Linked DNA regions of Homo sapiens: region 2 is linked to region 1. The links come from fine-mapping of genetic effects on gene expression. Tissue or cell type: whole blood. Region 1 holds a variant in brackets; the other region holds the start of a gene. All regions are shown on one strand. Distances are from middle to middle.

Region 1 (8,109 bases):
CATCATGTTGGCCAGGCTGGTCTTGAACTCCTGACCTCAAGTGATCCGCATGCCTTGGCCCCCCAAAGTGCTGGGATTACAGGTGTGAGCCACCATGCCTGGCCCCAAACGACTTTTTATGTTAATTTCTGGACTGGGGTTCCAAGACCCTAAGGTTAATGTGAATTCCAACTCTTTTAACTAGAAAGAAGACAGGCCTTTTTTTCCAACTCAGATCACACCCATAGTAATAAACTTTCCCCCAAAAGCTATTGAAAAAAAAATTAAGTAGTAACAAATTTCTGTTTTCATCTCCCAGTAGACTAGGTGGCTTTTATCCAGAGTGAGATCTTCTAAGGGTTCTGACTTTATGTATACTTCTCAGGCTCCTCCCTTTATGTGGGTCCAAGGCTTTGTCTCTTGTCCCAGGGTGGATGTTAAAACGTGTGCCAGTTATGATCTATCCTCTTTGCTCTGATTTTTTATTCTAAAACTGGACTCTGCAGACACCCCTTCTCGTTCATTGGCTGATTCTATGTTAGGATCTCCCAATACAGGGTGCTGCAGGGACACTGCAAGGGTGGAAGAAGTGGCATCCTTTTTCCTCTGTTCTGTTTATATAGTGGCAAGTGGATCAGCAGGAAGGAATCCTGGCAGTGTTTATCACCGTGGCCGTAGCCCTCCTGCTTCAGTGGCTAGTGCTTCCTAGCCTACACAGGGAGTTCATGGGTAGGCAACTTCTATTATGCTCTCCCTTACCGTAGTGGCAGGCAGCATGTTTCTATGGCATCCATAACTCTTATCAGAAACTTGAATATCTAGCTTGTAGGGCCTTCCTCTAACTTTCTAAATTCTTTCCTTGTTCACTTTTCTTCAGTTCCAGTGGTGGTTGCTACTCCCTGCAGGAGCTACATCTGTTTGACTTACATTTTCCTTCTAGCATTAACCACCACTGACCTACCTACTGATTCCCATATTAAATTTCCCTTGTTCGAATTACTAGTGTGGTTTCCAACTAGGCAAGAGAGATCTGGAACAAACTCTGCCTAGAGGAAGGACTCCATATTAATCGTGTAACTGTTCCTATTTATCCCTCATCCCTCTCTTTGTGAAATGTGTATGTTGGGTGATCAAAGAAGGAAGCAAATTACTTAGTGTGCATTGTACTCAGTGTTACTAACTAATGAAGCTCATCTCACATACATCCAAAGGCCAGAAAAAATGAGTTGCTGGTGACTGAGCCAATAGTTAAATAACTTTCCCTTTTATCTTTAAGAACATCTTTTTGTGCCTTTTTTCTTGGAAAATTACTCAAATGATCTACTTAACTATTAAGTTATGCAAATATAAAGTAAAAGAGCATCACGAGAAATAAATTTGAGAGAAGTGATTTTAAAGAGCCAAAATACTCTGCGTGATAGTGTAAAAAGTTGTTTGCATTATATAAAGTGTTAGTTGTCTTGGACTTTTTTTGGACAAATGTTTGTTCATTAACTATTAATTTAAGCTGTGATGTGTCTGCAAAATGTTATCTATTCTTATGGAAATGTGCTCTTGTTCAAGCCATTGTTGAGTACATGGGAGCTGAAACTAGACTTGGTGCACCAAAATTCTCACTTATAATGGAAGGAAATATGTACAAATGAATTAGGCAATGTCGAGGCTGGTTCAATTTAAACCTGAACTGGCTTATTGGTCTTTCATATGGTATTATTTAAGACTGAATAAATAAGACTTTAGGAACAATAATGATACTAGCTTGTCGTATTAAGAAGAAATTATTCCATTTGGGTTCCCAGGACAATACACTCCTAATTGGTAGGGACTGAGGTCTCCCTTTAAGTCAGAGGATATTCTCACTTATAATCATCTGGGAAAGAGGCAAATCATGGGACAGACAAGGCCTGAGAGTTGGGGAATTTTTCCTCTACCTATGCCACATTTTCTTGGAGCCTGATTTCAAGTAGTGGTGTGAAGTGTGCCTGAGGACTGTTTAAGAGACAGAAATTTTAAAAGACTAGCGTTTTGTATTGGATGACAGGAATGTAGCTACAAAGGAAAGTATAATATTGATGAAAATTTCCTTCGGTCTGTGGATAATAACACCTACTATTTATATTTATGGTATTTTAGATAATTATAGTATAGCCTATTTAGTACATTATAGAAATTATAACATAACTATATTATACTAAGTACTTGATAGTGCTTAGTAATTTATCCTAACAACAAAGGCAAATTTTGTTTAGTGCTTAATCATTTATCCTAACAACGAAGGCAAAATTTATCTCATTATCTCCATTTTATAGTAGTCATATCTAGTACTCTGTATAAATTTTGGTAATCGAAACTACGCTCAGTGAGTTAAAAGTACGACTTTGTGTCCATATTTGGAACAATGTCGTAATGGAAAACACAGAATTCTTCCCTTTGCAGGGACCACATAACCTCCACACCACACATAACCTCCACACCAAACATAATAGTAGCAAATGATCTCAAAATGACAAAAAGTGATTAGCAGTCAATAGAGAAGAAGTTCTGAGCAGAGATTCAGATATGGAACCACATAATCCAGAAGACAATTAGGGGTACACGTTGCATCCTGACGGACTTCGGAGCACCTACGAGAAAAGATCATTCCCTTCAACTTCAGAATAAAATACTTGAGAGAAGAAAATGTTGTGGGTTTTTTTTTTTTTTTTTTTTTTTTTTTTTGAGACGGAGTCTCGCTCTGTCGCCCAGGCCGGACTGCGGACCGCAGTGGCGCAATCTCGGCTCACTGCAAGCTCTGCTTCCCGGGTTCACGCCATTCTCCTGCCTCAGCCTCCCAAGTAGCTGGGACTACAGGCGCCTGCCACCGCGCCCGGCTAATTTTTTGTATTTTTAGTAGAGACGGGGTTTCACCTTGTTAGCCAGGATGGTCTCGATCTCCTGACCTCGTGATCCACCCGCCTCGGCCTCCCAAAGTGCTGGGATTACAGGCGTGAGCCACCGCGCCCGGCCGGGGTTTTTTTTAACTTGTATTTTAGGTTCAGGAATACATGTGCAGGTTCGTTATATGGATAAACTCATATCACAGGGATTTGTTGTGCAGATTATTTCGTCACCCAGGTATTAAGCCTAGTACCCAAGAGAATTTTGAAAAGGATGGGGAAGAAGGTGAGAAGTTCTGCTACCTGTAAGCAGGTGGGATGTCTCTAGCAAGCTGACAGTAATCACTGTAGATAGTCTTTCTTTTTTGAGACAAGGTCTGGCTTGTCACCCAGGCTGGAGGGCAGTGGTTAGATCTCGGCTCATTGCAGCCTTGACTTTCTGAGCTCAAGCAATTCTCCCACCTCAGCCTCCTGAGTAGCTGAGAATACAGGCACATGCCGCCACACCTATTTTTTGTAGAGACAGGCTCTTGCCATGTTGCCAAGGCTGGTCTCGAACTCCTGGACTCAAGCCATCTGCCCACCTCAGCCTCCGAAAATTCTGGGATTACAGGCGTAAGCCACTGTGCTTGGTCCCACTGTAGATAATCTAAGTGTTTGTGTATCTTACTGACAAGTTAAATATTCTGCGTAGCCAACTGTCATATAAATGAACTTTTTGAAATGATGAGGTCTTGCTATGTTCCCCAGGCTGAACGCAAACTCCTGGGCTCAAACCATCCTCCTACCTCCACCTTCTGAGTAGCTGGGACTACAGTTACGTGCCACCACACCCAGCTCTAAATGAACTCTCTAGCAATGATGAATTAAACTTATAAATCTTATCAGAATACATGTGACTATGGTCGTTACTGATTTTATACCCATGTCCAAATGTAAGAGTCGAGGAAGCAGTACTGAAGCATGGCAGAAGGCACAAGTCTGTCAGGAGGCCTGAGATTTCTTCATATTATACTTTTAATTCATTGTATGACCTTGAGCAAATCATTTAATTCCTCAAAGACTACTCTTTCTCAACCATAAAATGAAGTTTATCTGCCTCTCAAACATCCATTCCAGTTACGGGTTTTTTCCCTGCTAATTCTGTTTAACTAAAAGCAGATCATCACTTAACTGAATGTTTAAAAAGTCTTAAAACTTACCATGAAGATTCTTGATGTCAAATTTGGTGAAAAATTGCACAATGATAAATTCCAATAACCTCTAAGATTAGCTTGGTAATTTATTTAATACATTTGTAGAAAAAAAATTAAGTAGCTCCCCTGAATTTATTATAATCTACCCATATTCAAGTTATCATTACTTTCGGAGACAGCCAAATGCCTAGGCAGACAAAAAGGGGTCCCCAGAAAAATCTCCCACCTGCCCCACAAGTGTTCACATCAGATGCTTTTGTGCAGATGAGGGAACCTGCCCAGTGCCTTGTGTGAACATGCCCATATGCGCACTGGGGGAATGGGGTGGAACCAGGGCAGGGGAAGGAGGCTGGCCTCTTCAGTTCCTAT[G/C]TGGTGGCTTGGGATTCAATCTGTGAGGTGCCTTTTCAGTCCCTGTGCAGTAGCCTGGGATTCAGTCTATGAGGTGGGGGCCTGATAACAGGACTCTATCTCGCTTTGGTGAGTTTTTTCTTTTTCCTTTTGCCCAATAAAATCCTGCTCTACTCACCCTTCAATGTGTCCACGTGTCTAAGTTTTCCTTGTCATGTGACAAGAACCTGGTTTTAGCTGAACTGCGGGGCAAAATTCTGCATTTCTAAATGCTTGCATTTGTGATCAAACTCTAATTGAACTGGTTATCAACCTTTTCTACTGAAGGGTCAGATTTAAACATTTTTTTCTGATTACAGAAGTATTAAATAATAATTGTCAAAATTGAGAAAATAGAGAAGAGAAATAAAGCTCCCAACATTCACAGTCTTGAAATAATTACTGTTAGCATTTTGATATTTACCATCCAGCCTTTATTTTCAAGAAACACGTGTAAGAAAGAATGTAAGAATGTATATGTTTTGTTTTAAACATCATTTGGAACATACATATAATTTTCTATCCTGATTTTTCACACATTATTCAGCAAGCATTTTTCCATATTGTTTTAAAAAATATATTTATTATGTCTATATAACAAGAATACACCAGCAAATTTAATCATCCTTCAATTTTTGAGCATTTAGTTTGTTTCTGGCTCTTGGTATTTCCAAATAATTTCTCAGAATGAGTTTCATTATCTGCAGCAGTTTAGAATAGTACCATTTCATTGTATCCTTGCAAATACTGAATATTTCTAACTGTAAAGCTTTGTTAACTTGACAAGTGAATCAATACAAATGACTAAAACATGCATTTTAATTTGCATTATTTTGCTTAGTGAAGTTTTTAAATGTCTTATTCATTTGTATTGCTTCTGAGGATCATTCATATCCTTAACTGAGAGAACAGATTTACTATAAAAAAATTATTTTTAAGTGAGATTCAGTTTTAATAACGGTTTATAGAATGTCTATAGGAAGTGCTGTCAAGTCTATAGCTGCATTTTTTTAATCAAACTTTTTATATTGAGACAATTGTGTCACATGCAGTTTTAAGAAATAATATACAGATGACCGTGTATATCTTTAATCTAGTTTCCCCCAGTGGTGACATGTTACAAAACTATTGCAATATCACAACCAGAATACTGACATTAATATAGACAAGATGCAGGATTTCCATTCCCTGACCCATGGCAATCAATTATTCTGTTGTCCACTTACATAAATTTATCAATTCTGAGATGTTACATAATGGAATTACACAGTATATAAGCATTTGAGATTGGCTTTTTCTTTAACCATAATTTCCTACAGATTCATTTCAGGGTGTGTTCATCAATACTGTGTTCCTATTTGTTACTAAATATTCCATAGGATAGATGTACCAGTTTCTGTAAACATTTATAGTTGAATTTTAATGATTATTTCATTAATACATTTGTCTAATTTCAGGGGTTGGAAGGAGAAAAGAAAATGCTTTCACTAGGAAGTCATTCGGTCATCCCAACATTCACTGAAAGCAAACCATTGGGACAAATGTTATCCTATGCTTCTGATTACAAAACAACTAAAACCCAAATAAAATAAACATTAGTAAGTAGCAGTGCTAAGATTGAAACCAGATACGTATTTAAAGAAGCAAGAAAATGAGTTCAGAGAACATTTTATCATCAATAAAAACTTTCTAAAATGTAACAATTTTTCTAGGTTTAATTAAACAGGCTAAAAACTTGATGTGTCCAGTCCATGAGAGCATCCTCCTATCCACTGGACGAGGTGTCTACTAAACCACATCTTATATCTATTGTGAGGCCAACTGTCTTGAGGCCAAACAAGACGCGAATTATATGGTAGCACTTGAGAGGGCTGCGGACACATTAGAGCAGCTTTCTCTTCCCATCTACAGCAGTTCTGGGCAGCATGCTTGGAATGGCAACGCTGACGTCCCCGAAAAACCCCAGCCCTCTTGCCAATTTCCTCTGAACCCCAACTACCCAACCCAAAATTATGTGAAGATCTGATTTTCAAACAAAACGAGGACAATAATGCACCATTATTACGTTTCCCTAAAACATTAACAGTATGGAAATTAAGACACAAACCAGAGACCGGAAAAAAATCTTGGTGCGTTCAAAGTAACCTCAATCAGTTCCCGAGTCTATTTTCCGCTTATGGTGCAGTATTAACAAAAACTAAGCACACCGTGCAGAGAAACGCCCCTTCGCACTTATGACTTCCGGCCTGGGACTCTGGCTCCTCACACGCCTTTGATACAAAGTTCGAAGGCTGAGCCTTAGCCATGCCACGCCCAGCGTGCTCCGGACGAGGATGCCCGAAACTGCAATGAGAGAGGGAAATTTCCTAGTCAGGTCAAGGTCCAACAAAACAAACGTCCGCACGCAGGAATTGAACCGTCTCGCAGGCAGAGGCGGCTGAACCAGGAGCGAGCGGAAGTGACGCACAGGCCGGTCGCCAGAGAAGGCGGGGCACCGAGGTAGCGCGCCCAATTGGGGCGCGGGAGAGGCCGGGGGTGTGGCAGCGTTGGCGGCGAGCAGGGGCCTGGGCGCGCTGGGGGCGGGGCCAGGGTGCTCGGCTCGCGGGGACTGGCCTCCTTCGGCAGCTGGAGGCGGTCACTCACGCTGGGCTAGGAGCTGAGGCGAGAAGGGCCATGCGGACGGCGAGGGAGTCCAGAGCCTTGAGCCCGGTGCTCCTCCCTCGCGCAGCGGTGGCTCTGCGGCCGCTGGAGTAAACACTGCCTTTGTTCCCTAGCGCCTCGTCTTTCGTCGCCCCGTGCCCTCACGCCGCCGGGCTCTGGCCGGCCCGCCCTCGGTCCTTGAACCCCATTTCGGCTCGTGCCGTGCGGATGCAGCTGCCGGGCCTGGGTTTGGGCATTGAGCGGGAGGAGGAGGAGGAGCGGCGGCGCCTGGGCGGCATGCGATGGGGAACTGCTGCTGGACGCAGTGCTTCGGACTGCTTCGCAAGGAAGCGGGGCGGCTGCAGCGAGTAGGCGGCGGCGGAGGGTAAGCCCGCTGGGGGAGGGGCCCGGCCCCCGTGGCTCCTCCTCTTCGGCCCCCGGCGGGGAATCCCTTTCACCGTCCCCCGGCGGCTGGAGGTGGCGGTCGAGAGCCCTGCTACACTCACTGCTTAGCAGACGTCAGACTGGTGGTCGTCTTGGAGGCCCAGTCTGGGGTCCGGTCTTGGGGCCTCCTCGGAAAGAGGTAGAAGAGGGGGCGGGGTGTCCCTCCTGCCAGGGCGCCCTGTCACGCGGGGAAGGAGTCACGGGAGACATCATCTCCAGGAAACAAGGGGTAGCTTCGCGCTAATGGGCTGTAGGACCGGCTCCACGGCAACCTGGACACACCCTGCGCTGAGCTTAGGTTTAACGCCAAAGCTAGTATCCCTGTATCTGACCCTCTCTTTAGCCCTGGCAGAGCAGGTGGGATCTGGCTCCGGAGTTAATGCCTCAGATTGATTTTAAGTAGAAGTCATTTGGATGCTGGAGTAAAATAAGGTTCCAGATACTGATGAACTCTGGTAGCTACAAAGACTTGCTGAATTGCAGAGTTCCCAATGGGCATTCAGATTCTTGGTGCTCATAACTACAGGGACAATGTGTAATTTTTTCGTATTAAGTTTTTGAAATTTCGAGAGGAATTCCTTGCCCTG
Region 2 (8,109 bases), 57 kb after region 1:
ATTATAGCTCCCACGAGTCCCACATGTTGTGGAAGGGACCTGATAGGAGGTAATTGAATCATGGGGATAGGTCTTTCCCATGCTGTTCTTGTGATAGTGAATAAGTATCACAAGATCTGATGGTTTTATAAGGGGGAGTTTCCATGCACAGGCTCTCTCTTTGCCTGCTGCCATCCATGTAAGATGTGACTTGCTCCTCCTTGCCTTCTGCCATGATTGTGAGGCTTCCCCAGCCATGTGGAACTGTGAGTCCATTAAATCTCTTTCCTGTATAAATTACCCGGTCTCAGGTATGTCTTTATTAGCAGTGTGAGAACAAACTAATACAGACAGGAATAAGGGCTATTACTTATTTCATGCCTTTCATGTGCCAGGCAGACTGCTGATACCCTGATACACTGTAACCAAGTACCTCCACTTTTCTAAGTCATAGTTTAATTTTTTTAATTATTTTCTCTTTTCCCTGTGCCCCACTTCCTACTTAGACCTTCAGAAATGCAAATGTAACCATTCACCTTTCCTGACCAGAAATTCCCTACAGGGCAAGTATATCTAACTATGTGCTCCAAGACAACCTTAACTTTGATCTCTCCTGGAGAGTTGACAGTCGATTTGCAGACCAAAGCATGTCCCCACAGAACTCTCACCTCCAGGGGGTGGCCTCTGAACTCACACCTACTAGGAGGGCATGGTGAGAGTATGCCCACTTGGCCACTTATATAACTTATATTTCTGCCCAGGAAGGTGTCAACTCAACTGTCTGGTAGATAAAGCACCAGGGAAGCGGGGGACCCCCTGCTCTGGCTCACTTCCCACCCTACTTTATAAAAGAGGCCCACTTTCTGCTCCAAAAGTGAAGCAGCACATTCTGGGTGTGGATAAAGGCAGGACGTTTTGTGCCCCCTTCTCCAAGCTAGCTTAGGAATTCACTTTTTTTTTGTACCAGACCTCACTCTTGTTAATTGGACTCTGCATGCAGCGGGCAACTAACCTACTTTTTGGTGACAACAGGTCATCTAATCTTCAAAATAACCCTGTGAATCACTGCTTCACTGATAAGGGAGCTGAATCTCAGAGGGTTTAAAAACCAGCCCAGATCATAAATCCAATGTCAGAGACAGGACTCAAACTCCAATGCATCCTCTCTTAACCATTACAAACACTGCCTCCCTGGTTACCAGCTACTTCACAAACTTTAGCAGTTAACCTGTAGAGAAGGGGGACATAAATGTGTGTGGGCTACAACCAGCAAGGCACCAAACAAGAATCTAATACTGGGGAGGGAAATACACCATTAGTGCTACCTCATAGGAGGAACAGGCTCTGAAGCACCAGGTTACGGTGAATATCAGTAACCTGGGTATCAGTAAGCCTGGGTGTATAAATGTTAGCATGGACCTAGTACTCATCGGTAATTGTGGCAGGTTGTTTGGAGACCATGTTGATCTCTGACCTCAAGGAACTTAGAAATGAATCTATTTGTTTATCCTCAAAGCCACAGAGTCCCTCTACAAAGTGACCTGAACACTCTGACATTTCAGAGTGGTCAGCAGAAAAACAGGAAAGACAGAAGCTGACAATTAAAATAATATAGTTAAAATTGTTAGATTTTAAAAAATCATTGGTGCACATTTGCTCAAAACAGCATTTTGAAATCTGTTAGTCGTAAGTTATCAAAGAAACAGGGCAACAATGATTTTATATAGTGATAACAATGGTTACCTCTGGAGACAGAAACTGGGGGCCCAGGATAGGAAGGAGACTTACTCTCCACTGCACACACACTCTACACCTTTGGAATTTTATACCATGTGCACTTCAATATCTATTCAAACACTTAACAAATATTTTCCTTACAAAATCACCAACCTCTGATTTTTATGGAATTGACAGTGGTTGGAGATTAGCAAAGTATTATTAAAGGGGTAAACTGTGATATCTGACATGGAAAAGTTGTAAAACACTGATTAATATCTGACAAACAATAATATCTGTGTTAACAAAGGAAATACAATAAATATAGAAATAAAAATAAGCACTGCAGTTGGGAACTCTGTCTCTGAAAGCTGAATACAGAAGGCATAGATGCTGCATCTTGAGTGTCCAGCTCTTCTGTGCTGGACATCAGGATGTATACACTTAACCTGGGAGGCTTAGAGTTGGGAAGAGAAGAGTTAGATCGAGGGCAAGGCTTCTGACTCCTCTCTGGGGAAAGAAGAATGGATACGTGTAGAGGTGCTATGTGCAAAAACAGCACCTCCACCTCTGCTACCCTCCCTGCAACACAACACACACACACACACACACACACGTACACACACACTCACTAAGGTCCTGCAAAGCCCGTGAAGAGACATACCACCTCTCCTTGCCAAAGGGTGTTCGGCCTTAAAATGCCATAAACAAAAACATATACAGAAATATTTTCGCTACAAGGACCCAGATGTCTAAGCAGTTTAACAGAAAGCTTGGCACCCCTGGGTGGTCATGCATGCCAACCAGATTTCTCATGCTTTAAGAAGTCTATTTTTTAAAACAGGATTGACCAAACTAATGGGGTCTGCTCTGGATGGTGAAAATGTTTACTTTCATTTCCCCCCAACCCCCTCGCCTCCCCAGTTCCCCCTGAATATATTCTCAAGAAAGAGTATGTCTTTGGGTGGTTGCAAGTAGGAAGTTTCAAGGCTTTTCTCCCTAACGAATACCGAACACTGAGCACACAGGAGGGGAACAGAAACTTGGAAGCAGAGCAAAGGACCAAGTTATCCTCCTGTCTAACCCTGCTCAACAGGATCACCCTGAAGTGTGGCTCTGAAGATATTTGTGAACTCTGGCACAGCTGTTTGGCAGAATTAATACTAAAACCACAGGTCTTGCAAAAACAAAGAATCAAAAAAAAAAAAAAAAAGTGAAAACCAAACAGCAGGAGGAAACCCTTAGGAAAGCTCGGTGTCTTTCAGACATGAGATTTTCTTTCTCCCACTCTACTTGACTGGCCTGACCTGGGGTCCAGTCCCACTTCCTGGTGGCTGCGGAAATCCGCAGTGAGGCTCAGTGTGGATTTTGGCTTCAGAGGATTTGGGAAATTCCACCTTTCAATCTGAAATCTGGGGAAAGTCCCAGAAAACAACGGATTACTATATTTCTCTCATGAACCAGACTGAAGCAAGGAGTCAGGTCTAGGACCAAGGACCTCGGCACTCCAGGGAGCCCAGGGCCCCTCAGAAAGGTCTCGCTTGGCCACCGAGAGCGTGGGGCCGTAGCAGTTGGCAAGCGGGGGAGGGGGGTCACGCACAACTGCTCTGGAGCCACACTGCATAAATGGCATTCGTTTTTGTTTTCTGATTAGAAAAACGTTGAAAAGAATACCAAAGTACAGAGAAAACACACCCCCATCTCCAATGTTTCCTCATTTATGTAAATATTCTCATATTTTATAAAACAGGGAGGTGCTGTCTATAATTTTTGCAGGCTTTCCTTAGCATATGGTGAGCGTGTGCCAGGTGAGCAGGAGCAGCGGGGGATGACTTCCGATCCGACACCCCCAAAATCTCCTGGACAAAGCTGCTGTCTTTGCGGGATAAACAGAAAAGGGCCAGTCCCCACCTCACCCCCAGCCCGCCGCCCCGCAAGTACCTGGGGCTGGGGAGTCAGTGAACTCTCTTCAGCTGTTCGGCTCTCCCGGCTCAGAGCGAGGGGAATCGAGGAGACTGGGCGCAGGATGGGGGTGGACACCCGGCCGCTGCTCCTCCGCGCGGGTAAGTGTGAGCCCCGGGGTGCGGGGAACCGAGCCAGGGACCAGTGACCGCGAGCCGCCGATCCTCCCGCGCTCCCGCGCGCGCGGCCTGCCTTCCCACTGGCTGGCAGAGCACGTCCTCTCGCGCCCGGGGCCTTTGTAAAGAGCGCAGCGGTGGCGCGGAGGTTTTCAGGCTCCGCCCGCTCCACTCGCGCTCCCGCCCCTTCCTTCCTCTCGAGGTGACCCGGCAGCTGGCGCCTTTCTCACCAGGTACCCAGCCCCCTGGCCGCCTCTCTCAGTTCTCTGGCAGGGTTTGGTGCGCGGTACACCGACCCGGACCGCGCCTTCCCAAACGAGTGGCCTCTCCTCCAGCCCGATTGGCGAGCTAGAGAAAAGAAGGGAACTGGATCACTTCAGCATTAAGGAGGACTTTTCCCCAAAATGAGTGTTGCCCCAGGGCGTGGGCAGGCGGGGAGCTGAACTAATCTTTCGGTGACTCCAAGGATACCAAGCAAGCCAGTGCGTGGCATGCACGAGCTCCTCTAATCATCGCAGTCCCCCTTACACATGAGTAAACCGAGGCTCAGAGAATGGTGGAGTGTGGCGAGCAGAAGTGGAATTTTTTTTTTCTTTTTTTCTTTTTTTGAGACGAGTCTCACCGTGTCGCCCATGCTGGAGTGCAGTGGCGCCATCTCGGCTCACTGCAACCTCTGCCTCCCGCAGAGGCGGGATTTGAACTTGCTCCAGGTTGCCCTCGCCTTACACCCAGCAGAGCAGTCCAGTCGCTTTCTCTCCTGCCGCTTGCATCGTAATGGACATCCAGAGTCCACAAGTAAAAGCTGGTACATGATGAAATGGGAAACACCTCTCAGGAGTCCTTTATAGCTTAGAAGAAGGTAATGCTACCTTTCTGCCTCAGTGAAAAGATTTGGAATCACCTAAGTGTGAAGAACCTAAGGAGAGTAGGTGTCAAGAGAGGATAGACCCGGGTGCCGTGGCTCAAACCTGTAATCCCAGCACTTTGGGAGGCCGAGGTGGGCGGATCACGAGGCCAGGAGTTTGAGACCAGCCTGGCCAACATGACGAAATTCCATCTCTACTAAAAATACAAAAGTTAGTTGGGCTTGGTGGTGGGTGCCTGTAATCCCAACTACTCGGGAGGCTGAGGCAGGAGAATCACTTGAATCCGGGAGGCAGAGGTTGCAGTGAGGCCGGGATGGCGCCATTGCACGCCAGTCTGGGCAACAGAGTGAGACTCTGTTTAAAGAAAAAGAGAGAGAGAGGATAGACACTGTAGAGACCAGCAATCCCTGTTGGGAACCAGTGTCATGGAAGACTTTTTCCACAGACTGGGGTTGGGGCCACGGGAGATGGTTTCAGGATGATTCAAGCCCATTTCATTTATTGTGCACTTTATTTCTATTATTATTGCATTGTAATATATAATGAGATAATTATACAACTCACCATAATGTCGAATCAGTGGAAGTCCTGAGCTTGTTTTCATGCAACTAGACGGACACATTTGGGGGTGATGGGAGACAGTGACAGATCATCAGGCATTAGATTCTCATAAGAAGCGGGCAACCTAGATCCCTCCCATGTGCAGGGTTCCTGCTCCTATAAGAATCTAATGCCCCAGTGATCTGACAGGAAACAGAGCTCAGGCAGTAACACAGGTGACGGTTAGCAGCTGTAAATACAGATGAAGCTTCGCTTGCTGGCCCTGAGCACACCTCCTGCTTTGCCGCTGGGTTCCTAACAGTCCATGGACCACTGCCAGTCCATGGCCCAGAGGTTGGGGACCCTTGCCATAGAAGGAGAAAGAAGACTGAGGATAGATAGAGGAAGGAGGACAAAACTTGGCTTGGCTGAGATCACAGCGGCCTACTTCTTCGCATGGGAAACCAAATTCTGATGATGGAAATGAGTGGAAGCCCCTTGTCTGTCTTCTGTCCTTGAGTTCAGGAGAGTTGCTTGTTTGTGGATCAGTTTCACTGGCAATAAAATGACACTGATGTCCACCTGATAAAGAGGTGCTATGGGTGCGGTTAAGTTTTGAACTGTGTCAGAGCTAGGTATAATCAAGTACAGTGACTGTGGGGAAAGAAGGGTACATTTACAAGTGAGGCAGATTCCCGTAAGGGCTGCAATTTTGTTAATCATCAACATTTATTATTTCTTCTCTAGAAGTGACAGTCAGGGTACCTTCTCTCAGCTGATGAACATGAGAGCAGGTGGAAGATAAGACGTGCTATCTGATTATGTCAGTGAACTCATACAGTAGAACAGTATTATCAGAATTGGAGTTTCCAATCTCTAATTTGAAAACTGACAAAAGGCCCAGAAAATTTCTAAAAGCTTGAATAAGGCCAGAGCCCCCAAAAAAGTGACTATTTATTTCTGTACTTTCAATTTATTAAGTTTTCTGAAAATCACCAGGGGACATTTGCAAAAGAAGCAATTTTAAGTCACTCATATCTAAATTAGGCAAAGTAATTTGTAATATGGGCTTTATTATTGTTTCAGTTTGTATAAAACCATTAAAAATGATTATTTTTAATGAAGAGATTATTTTAGTTATTATTTAAAACATGAACATCATTCTTTGATAACGAAAATGTCTTTACTGTTAAAGAAACACAATAGGAATTTTAATTATGCAATGAAAGGTACTAGACATTTCAGGAAGGGGTTTATACAAATATCCTCATCTCAGGCTATTATTTCTCTTAAAACAAGCAAATTACTAAAGTCTGAAAGTACTTTGGCCAAAGTTACATCAGACTGAGGAAATGTAAGGCTTCCACTGTGTGCCACCGTTACAAATATGCTAATGAGAACATAGCAGCTGGAAATCACCTTTGAGGCCCTCTTATTGCGGTTTTTCTTTTTGAAAAGAAAAACCAAAAAACAAAAATATTTTTGTTTCAATGTGATCGTGTCATTTTGATAAATTCATTATCTGATCCTGACATAGCCTTAAAGTGTGAAACTTTCTCTTGCACATAGAACTGCTCATGGGCTGCCAACATCTTTTAAATTAGACAGATGCAGTTAAACTCTCCTGTGAATTCAACAGGATTTTAAACTTGGTTAACCTCACTTGCTACAACCAAATGCCCTGAGTGGTGTTGGGGTTATAGGAAGTAACATAAATGCTTTCAGGAAAAAATTACAAGAAACCCTTCAGGGAAATGACTATACTAAAAGTTGGGCTAGGATTGTATTCAAAATAGACGAAAACAGTAGGCATGTGTTATTGATACAGAAAGGAGGGATTTACTGTTTTAATTACCAATGACCCATCATTTAATTTGAAAATAACATAAAATGCCCATAATCCATTATATTTCGATCCAGCTTTGAACAATTTGAAATTTCTAAATTGTATTAACGTTTAAAAAAAAAGTAAAAATTTATCTTGGCTCTCCTATTCAATTGATGGCATGCCATCACTTCCTGTTATCATCATCCCTCATCCCCATGACATGGGTCAATATAATTTCTAATTAAGTTACTTGGTTGTTTGGAAATACAAAGTTTTTCCGTGGCAAGAATCTTAAGAGTTTTAGATATTTTTGCTAGCCCATAATTAAGATGATGTACATTAAACGCCTACTGTATGTTATTTAACATAAAAAATAAAAGCAGCTAATTTGTGGTAATACAATCACACCATGTAAAAAAAAAGAAGAGGTGCATGTTTGTGTTACTTGCTGATAAATGAATTATATGACCTCGCTTTCTGTCCAAGGCGTTCTAAGCACCTGAGACCCACACTTGTCTAACTCTCCCCTGTCCGGCCCTGACGTTTACATTATGTGCAGTTCAGCTCAAGTGTGTCTCACCGCCTCATGGTGGATGCTCTCTGCTAACAAGTGAAAACATTTAGAATCACCTGAGATAGCTGACCTAAATCGTTTTCCACTAGTTCCTAAATGAGGGACAGGCGGCAGCCCAAATCTCTTCCTCTTCCCTGTTCTTGAAGTCAAGTGACCACAATTAAAATTAACAACTTAAAGCCGAGCCCAGTGGCTCACACCTGCAATCCTAGCACTTTGAGAGGCTAAGGCAGGCAGGCAGATCACTTGAGGCCAGGAGTTTGAGACCAGCCTGGCCAAACTGGTGAAACCCTGTCTCTACTAAAAATGCAAAAATTAGCCATAAGTGGTGGCATGCACCTGTAGTCCCAGCTACTCAGAAAGCTGAGACATGAGAATCGCTTGAACGTGGGAGGTGGAGGTTGCAGTGAGCAGAGATCATGCCACTGCACTCCAGTCTGGGCAACAGAGTAAGACTCTGTCTCAAAAAAAAAAAAAAATTGAAAAATAAAATGAGCATTTTAAATCTATGTGTGAAGGATGCACTAC

Evidence for each region. PIP is the estimated chance that this variant, and not a neighbour inherited with it, causes the effect.
Region 2: it holds the start of TIFA, and the variant in region 1 is fine-mapped to the expression of TIFA in whole blood (INTERVAL, PIP 0.98).

The regions. Positions count from the first base shown.
Region 1 is chr4:112,224,712-112,232,820 of GRCh38, forward strand. It overlaps AP1AR (adaptor related protein complex 1 associated regulatory protein), which reads left to right and starts at 7,076. Exons shown (of 10, transcript NM_018569.6): 1 at 7,076-7,463. The coding sequence starts at 7,381. AP1AR-DT (AP1AR divergent transcript) reads right to left here and starts at 7,439. Exons shown (of 1, transcript NR_186684.1): 1 at 4,850-7,439. RefSeq lists enhancers at 6,849-7,796, 7,821-7,870 and silencers at 6,901-7,180, 7,341-7,610. The variant G/C (reference allele first, on the strand shown) is at 4,421.
Region 2 is chr4:112,282,004-112,290,112 of GRCh38, forward strand. TIFA (TRAF interacting protein with forkhead associated domain) reads right to left here and starts at 3,901. Exons shown (of 2, transcript NM_052864.3): 1 at 3,637-3,901. RefSeq lists enhancers at 2,674-2,853, 2,884-3,003, 5,513-5,632 and a silencer at 3,644-3,953.